Linked DNA regions of Homo sapiens. The protein of the gene in region 2 purifies or fractionates together with the protein of the main gene of each other region. This does not show direct contact. Each region holds a gene or a part of one and is shown on either strand. Other genes may lie near its edges.

What was found.
Region 1: the proteins of BFAR (region 2) and VAMP7 purify together in Homo sapiens (affinity purification with mass spectrometry, with the first as the bait; one large-scale study listed by BioGRID). This does not show direct contact.
Region 3: the proteins of BFAR (region 2) and EIF2AK3 purify together in Homo sapiens (affinity purification with mass spectrometry, with the first as the bait; one large-scale study listed by BioGRID). This does not show direct contact.

The regions. Positions count from the first base shown.
Region 1 is NC_000023.11:155,933,177-155,936,903, reverse strand, and holds part of VAMP7 (vesicle-associated membrane protein 7), read right to left. Parts: intron 1-3,727. UniProt on the Homo sapiens protein: Involved in the targeting and/or fusion of transport vesicles to their target membrane during transport of proteins from the early endosome to the lysosome. Required for heterotypic fusion of late endosomes with lysosomes and homotypic lysosomal fusion.
Region 2 is NC_000016.10:14,639,433-14,643,159, forward strand, and holds part of BFAR (bifunctional apoptosis regulator), read left to right. Parts: intron 1-3,727. UniProt on the Homo sapiens protein: Membrane-bound E3 ubiquitin ligase that plays a role in several processes including apoptosis regulation or reticulum endoplasmic stress. Has anti-apoptotic activity, both for apoptosis triggered via death-receptors and via mitochondrial factors.
Region 3 is NC_000002.12:88,592,965-88,596,464, reverse strand, and holds part of EIF2AK3 (eukaryotic translation initiation factor 2-alpha kinase 3 isoform 1 precursor), read left to right. Parts: intron 1-801; coding exon 802-996; intron 997-2,406; exon of another isoform or gene 2,407-2,552; intron 2,553-3,059; coding exon 3,060-3,193; intron 3,194-3,500. UniProt on the Homo sapiens protein: Metabolic-stress sensing protein kinase that phosphorylates the alpha subunit of eukaryotic translation initiation factor 2 (EIF2S1/eIF-2-alpha) in response to various stress, such as unfolded protein response (UPR).

The DNA.
Region 1 (3,727 bases), on a different chromosome or scaffold from region 2:
TTAAATTTATTCCTAACTATTGTACTCTTTTTGATGCTATCATAAATGGGATTTTTAAAAAATTTCCTTTGATTCCTGTTCCAAGATGGCCAAATAGGAACAGCTCCAGTCTACAGCCCCCAGCGTGAGCAACGCACAAGACGGATGATTTCTGCATTTCCAACTGAGATACCGGCTTCATCTCACTGGGGCTTGTTGGACAGTGGGTGCAGCCCACCGAGCGTGAGCCGAAGCAGGGCGAGACATCGCCTCACCCGGGAAGCACAAGGGGTCAGGGAATTCCCTTTCCTAGCCAAGGGAAGCTGTGACAGATGGCACCTGGAAAATCGGATCACTCCCACCCTAATACTGCGCTTTTCCAACGGTCTTAGCAAACAGCACACCAGGAGATTATATCCCGCGCCTGGCTCAGAGGGTCCCACACCCACGGAGCCTCACTCATTGCTAGCACAGCAGTCTGAGATTGAACTGCAAGGTGGCAGCGAGGCTGGAGGAGAGGCGCCCGCCATTGCTGAGGCTTGAGTAGGTAAACAAAGCTGCCGGGAAGCTCGAACTGGGTGGAGCCCACCACAGCTCAAGGAGGCCTGCCTGCCTCTGTAGACTCCACCTCTGGGGGCAGGGCATAGCTGAACAAAAGGCAGCAGAAACCTCTGCAAACTTAAATGTCCCTGTCTGACAGCTTTGAAGAGAGTAGTGGTTCTCCCAGGACAGAGTTTGAGATCTGAGAACAGACAGACTGCCTCCTCAAGTGGGTCCCTGACCCCCAAGCAGCCTAACTGGGAGGTACCCCCCAGTAGAGGCAGACTGACACCTCACACGGCGGGTACCCCTCTGAGACAAAACCTCCAGAGGAACGATCAGAGAGCAACATTTGGTGTTCAGCAATATTCACTGTTCTGCAGCCTCCGCTGCTGATACCCAGGCAAACAGGGTCTGGAGTGGCCCTCCGACAAACTCCAACAGACCTGCAGCTGAGGGTCCTGACTGTTAGAAGGAAAACTAACAAACAGAAAGGACATCCACACAAAAACCCCATCTGTATGTCACCATCATCAAAGACCAAAGGTAGATAAAACCACAAAGATAGGGAAAAAAACAGCAGAAAAACTGAAAATTCTAAAAATCAGAGCGCCTCTCCTCCTCCAAAGGAACGCAGCTCCTCACCAGCAACAGAACAAAGGTAGACAGAGAATGACTTTGACGAGTTGAGAAAAGAAGGCTTCAGATGATCAAACTTCTCTGAGCTAAAGGAGGAAGTTTGAACCCAGCACAAAGAAGCTAAAAACCTTGAAAAAAAGATTAGATGAATGGCTAACTAGAATAACCAATGTAGACAAGTCCTTAAATGACCTGATGGAGCTGAAAACCATGGCACGAGAACTAAGTGACGAATGCACAAACTTCAGTAGCCGATTCGAACAACTGGAAGAAAGGGTATCCGTGATTGAAGACCAAATGAATGAAATGAAGCGAGAAGAGAAGTTTAGAGAAAAAAGAATAAAAAGAAACGAAAAAAGCCTCCAAGAAATATGGGACTATGTGAAAAGACCAAATCTACGTCTGATTGGTGTACCTGAAAGTGATGGGGAGAATGGAACCAAGTTGGAAAACACTCTGCAGGATATTAGCCAGGAGAACTTCCCCAACCTAGCAAGGCAGGCCAACATTCAAATTCAGGAAATACAGAGAACGCCACAAAGATACTCCTCGAGAAGAGCAACTCCGAGACACATAATTGTCAGATCACCAAAGTTGAAATGAAGGAAAAAATGTTAAGGGCAGCCAGAGAGAAAGGTCGGGTTACCCACAAAGGGAAGCCCATCAGACTAACAGCTGATCTCTCGGCAGAAACTCTACAAGCCAGAAGAGAGTGGGGGCCAATATCCAAAATTCTTAAAGAAAAGAATTTTCAACCCAGAATTTCATATCCAGCCAAACTAAGCTTCATAGGTGAAGGAAAAATAAAATCCTTTACAGACAAGCAAATGCTGAGAGATTTTGTCACCACCAGGCCTGCCTTACAAGAGCTCCTGAAGGAAGCACTAAACATGGAAAGGAACAACACATACCAGCCACTGGAAAAACATGCCAAATTGTAAAGACCATCAAGGCTAGGAAGAAACTGCATCAACTAACGAGCAAAATAACCAGCTAGCATCATAATGACAGGATCAAATTCACACATAACAGTATCAACCTTAAATGTAAATGGGCTAAATGCTCCAATTAAAAGACACAGACTGGCAAATTAGATAAAGAGTAAAGACCCATCAGTGTGCTGTATTCAGGAAATCCATCTCATGTGCAGAGACACACATAGGCTCAAAATAAAGGGATGCAGGAAGATCTACCAAGCAAATGGAAAACAAAAAAAGGCAGGGGTTGCAATCCTAGTCTCTGATAAAACAGACTTTAAACTAGCAAGGATCAAAAGAGACAAAGAAGGCCATTACATAATGGTAAAGGGATCAATTCAACAAGAAGAGCTAACTATCCTAAATATTTATGCACCCAATACAGGAGGACCCAGATTCATAAAGCAAGTCCTTAGAGACCTACAAAGAGACTTAGACTCCCATACAATAATAAAGGGAGACTTTAACACCCCACTGTCAACATTAGACAGATCAATGAGACAGAAAGTTAACAAGGATATCCAGGAATTGAACTCAGCTCTGCACCAAGCGGACCTAACAGACATCTACAGAACTCTCCACCCCAAATCAACAGAATATACATTCTTCTCAGCACCACATCGCACTTATTCCAAAATTGACCACATAGTTGGAAGTAAAGCACTCCTCAGCAAATGTAAAAGAACAGAAATTATAACAAACTGTCTCTCAGACCACAGTGAAATCAAATTAGAACTCAAGATTAAGAAACTCACTCAAAACTGCTCAGCTACATGGAGACTGAACAACCTGCTCCTGAATGACTACTGGGTACATAACGAAATGAATGCAGAAATAAACATGTTCTTTGAAACCAATGAGAACAAAGACACAACATACCAGAATCTCTGGGACACATTTAAAGCAGTGTGTAGAGGGAAATTTATAGCACTAAATGCCCACAAAAGGAAGCAGGAAAGATATAAAATTGACACCCTAACATCACAATTAAAAGAACTAGAGGAACAAGAGCAAACACATTCAAAAGCTAGCAGAAGGCAAGAAATAACTCAGAGCAGAACTGAACGAGATAGAGACACAAAAAACCCTTCAAGAAATCAATGAATCCAGGAGCTGGTTTTTTGAAAAGATCAACAAAATTGATAGACTGCTAGCAAGACTAATAAAGAAGAAAAGAGAGAAGAATCAAATAGACGCAATAAAAAATGATAAAAGGGGATATCACCACCGATCCCACAGAAATACAAACTACCATCAGAGAATACTACAAACACCTCTACACAAATAAACTAGAAAATCTAGAAGAAATGGATAAATTCCTTGACACATACACCCTCCCAAGACTAAACCAGGAAGAAGTTGAATCTCTGAATAGACCAATAACAGGCTCTGAAATTGAGGCAATAATTAATAGCTTACCAACCAAAAAAAGTCCAGGACCAGATGGATTCACAGCCGAATTCTACCAGAGGTACAAGGAGGAGCTGACACCATTCCTTCTGAAACTATTCCTATCAATAGAAAATGAGGGAATCCTCCCTAACTCATTTTATGAGGCCAGCATCATCCTGATACCTAAGCCTGGCAGAGAC
Region 2 (3,727 bases):
GAGTAGCTGGGATTACAGTCGTGCACCACCATGCCCGGCTAATTTTTGTATTTTTGGTAGAGATGGAGTTTCACCACGTTGACCAGGCTTGTCTCGAATTCCTAACCTCAGGTGATCCGCCCACCTCCATTTTGGTAGACAGAGCCTCCTAAAGTGCTAGGATTACAGGCGTGAGCCACCACGCCAGGCCAGAAACAAGTTCTTTAGTTACATGCATCATTGGGAGATTGTGTGTGTTCCCAGTCTTTCCTTTTCTTTTAGGGATTTAAAGATAATTATACTTTGTCAGTTAGGCATGTCTTCAGGAAAACATAGAGAAGGTCATGTTGATTATATATCTTGGAATTGTCCAGATCCTCAGAGATTATGATATTGGTTTCCTGTCAGTTGTGCCAACAATGATAAGTAACGACCTGACGTGAAATCAAGAGAGAGGAAAGCTCTGGTCAGGCACAGTGACTCAAACCTGTAACCCCAGCATTTTGGGAGGTCGCGGTAGGCAGATTGCTTGAGTTTAGGAGTTCGAGATCAGCCTGGGCAACATGGCAAAATCCCATCTCTGCAGAAAATTAGCCAGGTGTGGTGGCGCACACCTGTAGTCCAGGCTACATAGGAGGCTGAGGCAGGAGGATCACCTGAGCCTGGGGAGGTCGAGGCTACAGTGAGCCATGATCTCACCACTGCATTCCAGCCTGGGCAACAGAGTGAGACCTAGCTCCAAAAAAAAAAAAAAGAAGAAGAGAGAGAGAGAGGAAAGCTCGAAGCTGACAGAACTCCAAAAGCTAACTAGCCTAAAGCCAAGCTGCCTAGAAACAACCATATATACCCATTAGTACACTTGGAAGAAGGCATCACATTATGGGACAGGGGATGAAAGCTCGGGGGTCAGGCAGGTAACAGAACTGAAATGGACAGGTGGGAGAGGAGTGTAGCAAGCTGACGCTGGCACGGCTGCTGAGTTCCTCTGCTCGAGCTGATCTTGTCATGCGTGATGCGATTCCAGTATTGCCAGATCTCTGGGTTTTTGTTTTTGTTTTTTTTCAAGAGAAGCCAGGAATCTAGATTTTTATGTCATATCAGATTTTTTTTTGTAAATGCTGGCACCTCATTTAACTTAGAAAAGGGAGAAAAAACACCAGGTGAAGGAAAGCCTCCCTACAGGCCAGGTGTTGCCCTGGTAGGGCGGTGGCTACTGGTGGTGAGACTGTTCCAGGACACGGAAGATGGATGATGATGTTAATAATGATGCGTCACCGTGGTGAGGCTCACCTGCTTCCTTATAACCACTGCAAGAGGCAGAAGTGTGTCGCACATTAACACCCTCTTATCCCAGTAGATCAGCAGTAGCTCTTAACCGCCTCTGGGAGTTGGCCCCTTCTGAGAGCCTAATAAACCCTATAGACTGCCTTCTAGAAACATGGACGTACCATACACAAACGCAAGCGTGGCACAGAATTCAGACTTCCCGAGGCATCTCTCCAGATACCAGTTGTAGACCCAACTTTTTATTCAGAAACCTTAGCTCTTCAGAGTGACTCAGTGCCTATGGGAACTCCTGAGGTTTTGCTGTCCTCTTCAGTTCTAAGGTGTTCAGTCTATGGTTTTAAACTTGTTTGTTTGCTGTTTTGTAGATTTTTCCAAACCCAGTCATTCTTCCCATTCGTTTTTGAACTAAGTAATTATTGCTTCTCGCCCTTTTGGCTAAGATCAACTAAACTTGGTAAATAACAGTTATGATTTCCTAAACACAAGTGTATCCATATGAATGGAGCACCAGGGGTAGGAATAGAATGATTCTCCTCCCCGCAATCCTGCCCCTACCCCCTTGTCTTTGGAGCCTTCAAGATGGAGAAAACAGTGAAGAGAAGAGTAGCTGAGAGCTGCTTCTAACGCCTGCAGCCTGCTGCTGACAGCTAGCCATATGTGCAGAGAACAACTGTAAACATCCTTAGGAGGTGGAGGCCTTCTCAAAGAGGCCTTTAATTATTAATTAGTTAATAATTAATAACCAGCATTATTGCTGGTGCAGGAGGGTGTGAACCCAGGAGGCGGAGCTTGCAGTGAGTGGAGATCGCGCCCCTGCACTCCAGCCTGGGCGACAGAGTGAGACTCCATCTCAAAAAAAAAAAAAAAAAGTATACTATAGAGGCCGGACATGGTGGCTCACGCCTGTAATCCCAGCACTTTGGGAGGCTGACGCAGGCAGATTGCCCGAGGTCAGGAGTTCAAGACCAACCTGACCAACATGGTGAAACCCCCATCTCGACTAAAAATACAAAATTAGCAGATGTGGTGGTGCCTGCCTGTAATCCCAGCTACTTAGGAGGCTGAGGCAGGAGAATCGCTTGAACCCCAGGAGGTGGAGATTGCAGTGAGCTCAGGTTGTGCTATTGCACTCCAGCCTGGGCAAAAAGAGCAAAACTCTATCACTAAAATAAAATAAAAATCAAGTGAATTGTTACCATTTATGGTAGACTTACCATGTGCCAGGCTCTGTACTAGGCACTTGACTCGAATTCTCTTCTTTAATGCTGCAAAACTCCCACTATGGTTAAGTGCTGTCATTGTCCCTCATCTATATGGTGAGCAAGCTGAGCCTCACCGCTGGTAAATGGCAGAGGTGGGGTGAGAACCCAGGCAGCCCAGCCATGGGACCTGTGTTCCTAACCACTGTGCCTCCAGAGCATGAAGCGTGAGCCCTTCCCTGCATGGCCAGTGTGGGCGGCGGAGAGCAATTTTCAGTCTTTTCCTTCACAATAGCAAGATTGAGAAACTCACCAGAAATAGTATGAATAATCATTTCTATAGCGCGTATTTACACCATACAAATTTTGAGCCACTTTCCTTCACTGTCTCTAATCCTCACAAGAAATCTTGATGGTTTGTGTACTGTGACCACCATTTCACAGTTGAGGAAACTTGATCAGAGAGCTTGAGTAACTTCTGCAGAGTCACAGAGCTAGTGACTTGGGGGAGTTAAGAGTCCAACTCCAAGATCTGTGTCATACTACTTCTCAATTTAAAAAAATTTTTAAAAATGTCTCCTAAAACCCAGATGAAAACAAGAAGAGAATGGTCCTTTGTCATTTGCTTACCTTTTGTCATTTGCTTATTAGTAATATTAGCATTTCTGTGGCACCAAGCTGGCTGGATCCAGAGGGCATGAGATGCATTTTTTGGGTTGATTTGGAGGGAAAGGGTATATTGAGCCATGGCAGATTTGGCCTGGCACAGCTAGAAAATGAGGCTTCACTCACTTCTTGGAATTGCTCGCATTAGAGCCTCTGAAGTCAAATGTTTATAAAATAATGATTGCCTAATGAGAAGGCAGATTTGTGTGCACAACAAGTGTTATTTACAGGAAGCATATCTGTTGTTACCAACCCCAGACATTTTACTAGGCCAAGAAGCTGGTTTATTTAAAGTCATAGACCTGGAAAGGTCTTTGGGAATTTAATTGAGGCCAGGCATAGTAGCTCACACCTGTAATCCCAGCACTTTGATAGGCCAAGACTGGCAGATCACTCGAGTTCAGGAGTTCGAGACCAGCCTGGCCAACATGGTGAAAACCCACCTCTACTAAAAATACAAAAATTAAAGCCAGATGTGGTGGCTCATACCTGTAATCCCAGCACTTTGGGAGGCTGAAGAGGGTGGATCACCTGAGGTCAGGAGTTCAAGACCAGCCTGGCCAACATGGCGAAAACCCGTCTCTACTAAAAATACA
Region 3 (3,500 bases), on a different chromosome or scaffold from region 2:
TATCACCTAACATACCATATAATTTACTTATTTATTAAGTTGTTTGTCTCGTGACACCAGAGTTTAACCTTCACAAAGGCAGTGATTTGTTTGCTTTGCTCGCTAATCTATCCCAACCATCAGAATGTGCCAGGCCATAGGTAAGCCCTTAATAAGCATTGTTAAAAGAAGGGAGGGCAACCGAGAACACAAAACCAGTAAGCTTACTTACTAGGCTTCTATCTCATTGCAGATTTGAGAAAGCAAATGAAAGAAGGGATGGGACACTACTTGAATCAGTATCTCTAAACCTGTGTTCCTTGGAGCTGAGTCTATGACAGTAATTGGCCTTGATAAAAATAGCCCTAGAAAATACTGCATATATTATCTATTTACACATTAAATATTCATATTACACATATTACACATAATCATGTTACACATTAACATACTAATTGCTATAAGAGCTCCTATAGTAACCTCTTCTTGAACTCACTTGATCATAAAACTCTCTTTTGGTAACTCACCTACCATTATGGGACCCTTTTGGCCCATGGTAAACTGAGTTTGAGAAAAATCTTACTAGAGTACTATGTGTAGGGCCTGGGAGTGATTGGCAGTTCTTTTAAATTACTTTTGGTTGATGGACTGCACTGCTTCATGTGCTACTCAGAAGGAGGCTGGAGTACATCAGGATCAAGACTCCAGCTCTTAATTACTATTATTCTTTTAAAGGTATGATGCTTCTATTTTTCTGGGAGAAATAAGAAAAAAATAATAATTAATGTTATGGCCCTTTTAAAAAGTTAGCTTCTGTTTTAGGTATTTGGGAATAAGATGATCATTCCTTCCCTGGATGGAGCCCTCTTCCAGTGGGACCAAGACCGTGAAAGCATGGAAACAGTTCCTTTCACAGTTGAATCACTTCTTGAATCTTCTTATAAATTTGGAGATGATGTTGTTTTGGTTGGAGGAAAATCTCTGACTACATATGGACTCAGTGCATATAGTGGAAAGGTAAGTGAAAATGCTGAATTTACTTTGGGGAAATCAGAGTAAATTAGGGTAGAAAAAGTAATTTATTAAACTACACTTATTATTAGTTGAGTTTTATTGTAATTTTCCCCTGAGGTTGTCATTTGTTTTAATAAGAGAACTGTGAGGTAGGAAGGGGAAACTAATAACAGAATAAATGGCAGAGCCAGGAATAGCAGGAGGAAGAGAATTCATAAATATGGTCTACTGTGTCTCAGGTGTTTTTTTTTTTTTTTTTTTTTTTGAGACAGAGTCTCACTCTGTTGCCCAGGCTGATCTCAGCTCATGGCAATCCCCACCCCCACCCCATTCCACACCCCCTCAGGTTCAAGTGGGTTCAAGCGATTCTTGTGCCTCAGCCTCCTGAGTAGCTAGGATTACAGGCACATGCCACCATGCTTGGCTAATTTTTGTATTCTTAGTAGAGACAGGGTTTTACTGTATTGCCAGGCTGGTCTCCAGCTTCTGGCCTTAAGGGATCTGCCCACTTCAGCCTCCCAAAGTGCTGGGATTATAAGCAGGAGCCACCATGCCCAGCCTCAGGTTCTTTTTTTTATACATTATTTTGCAATCTTCACAGTCTTCCTAAGTGTAACTTTCGTTTTTTTTTTTTTTTTTTTACATTTTGACAGATGAAGAACCTTATAAAGATTAATAGTAATCCTAATGATAAGAATAATTGATACTACTCATTTATAGGGTTTGATCCTATAATAAGGTGATCCAAGAGGAAAGTTTATACTCATTTTACAGATGAAGAAACTGAGACTTTAAAAGGTTCAGAAACTTCCAGGGTCACATTTAACTTAGATCTATCTGACAACAAAGTCATGCTGTTAATAATCTAGACTTTCTCCAACATTAGCTCTTAGGATATAATCATAATATAATCTGCTTCTAAGATTGGGTCTTATAAATCCATTATCAAGAGTAGCTAATTAAAAGCATCCTTTCAACCAGGCAAGGTGGCTCACACTTGTAATCCTACCACTTTGGGAGGCCAAGGTGGGTGGATCACTTGAGGCCAGGAGTTCGAGACCAGCCTGGCCAACATGGTGAAACCCCATCTCTGCTAAAAATAAAAAAATTAGCTGGGGATGGTGGCGCACGCACGCCTGTAGTCCCAGCTAGTCAGGAGGCTGAGGTACGAGAATCACTTGAACCTGGGAGGTGGAGGTTGCAGTGAGCTGAGATCACACCATTGTGACGTGTAAACGGTTTATATACAGACTTGGACTAAAATAAGGAAGAATAGAAACGTGGTCTTTTTACTCTTGCATTTTTCAACTTTAACAATTCCTTATCTAAGTGTTAGGCCCATAGCACTTTCTTGCTCTTGCAGATGCTTTTCTGCCTTCTCCACCCACCTGCATCTGCATTGTGTTGAGGAGGCCATGCCATCCTATCTGGCCGTTTTTTGAGCAAAGCACTTCAATCTCTGTTTACTTCGGTAGTCTCATCTGTAAACAACAGGATTGAACCCGATCACCTGGTTTTCCGATTTGATGTGCTGCTACATAATTCTGGTATTGTAGAAGGTATGCTTTTCGTGAGGATTTTAGTTTGGATCATATTAACTCTTCCTTTTTTCTTTAGTGAAAATTTGAGGCAGTTACTTTTGAATACAAAAAGCTCTCAGAAAAGTTTCAAATTTTTAAAAACCAAACACTTTTGTTATACAGAAACTCTAAGGTTGATTTTTTTTTTAACTCACCTGAAATTTTATTAATGATATTGTAGAAAAGCTATCACAAGTAGCTATCCATTTCTTCTTGTATATTCTATGGAAATCTCCAAAGTAAGGCTAAAATTATGTAAATCCTTAAAATCATTCCCTGAAATAAATATTCATTGGTACTGTCATTGTTCTAAATAACTCATTTTAGGAGTTGGTAATCTAACTGATGCTTCTTATGACTTGAGTACTTCATACACATTTCCTTAGTTTCCTTTCACTTTTTAAAAATTACAGATTCCTTTAATATCTCTGATCTATTATGAGTTGTCTCCTTTTACTAATTTTGTATCTAATTTTGTCTTTTCAGGTGAGGTATATCTGTTCAGCTCTGGGTTGTCGCCAATGGGATAGTGACGAAATGGAACAAGAGGAAGACATCCTGCTTCTACAGCGTACCCAAAAAACTGTTAGAGCTGTCGGACCTCGCAGTGGCAATGAGAAGTGTGTATTCAGATAATGTTGCTGTTGGTATTATTTAGAAATACACCTAATACCAAAATTTATCAGATTTCTGTTTGTGGAGATTTTGACTATTTTGTTGCCTTAAAAGCATATATATATATATTTTTTTGATACGGAGTCTTGCTCTGTCGCCCAGGCTTGAGTACAGTGGCGTGATATTGGCTCACTGCAACCTCCACCTCCTGGGTTCAAGCGAATCTCCTGCCTCTGCCTCCCGAGTACCGGGGATTACAGGCACGTGCCACCACACCCAACTAATTTTTGTATTTTTAGTAGAGACGGGGTT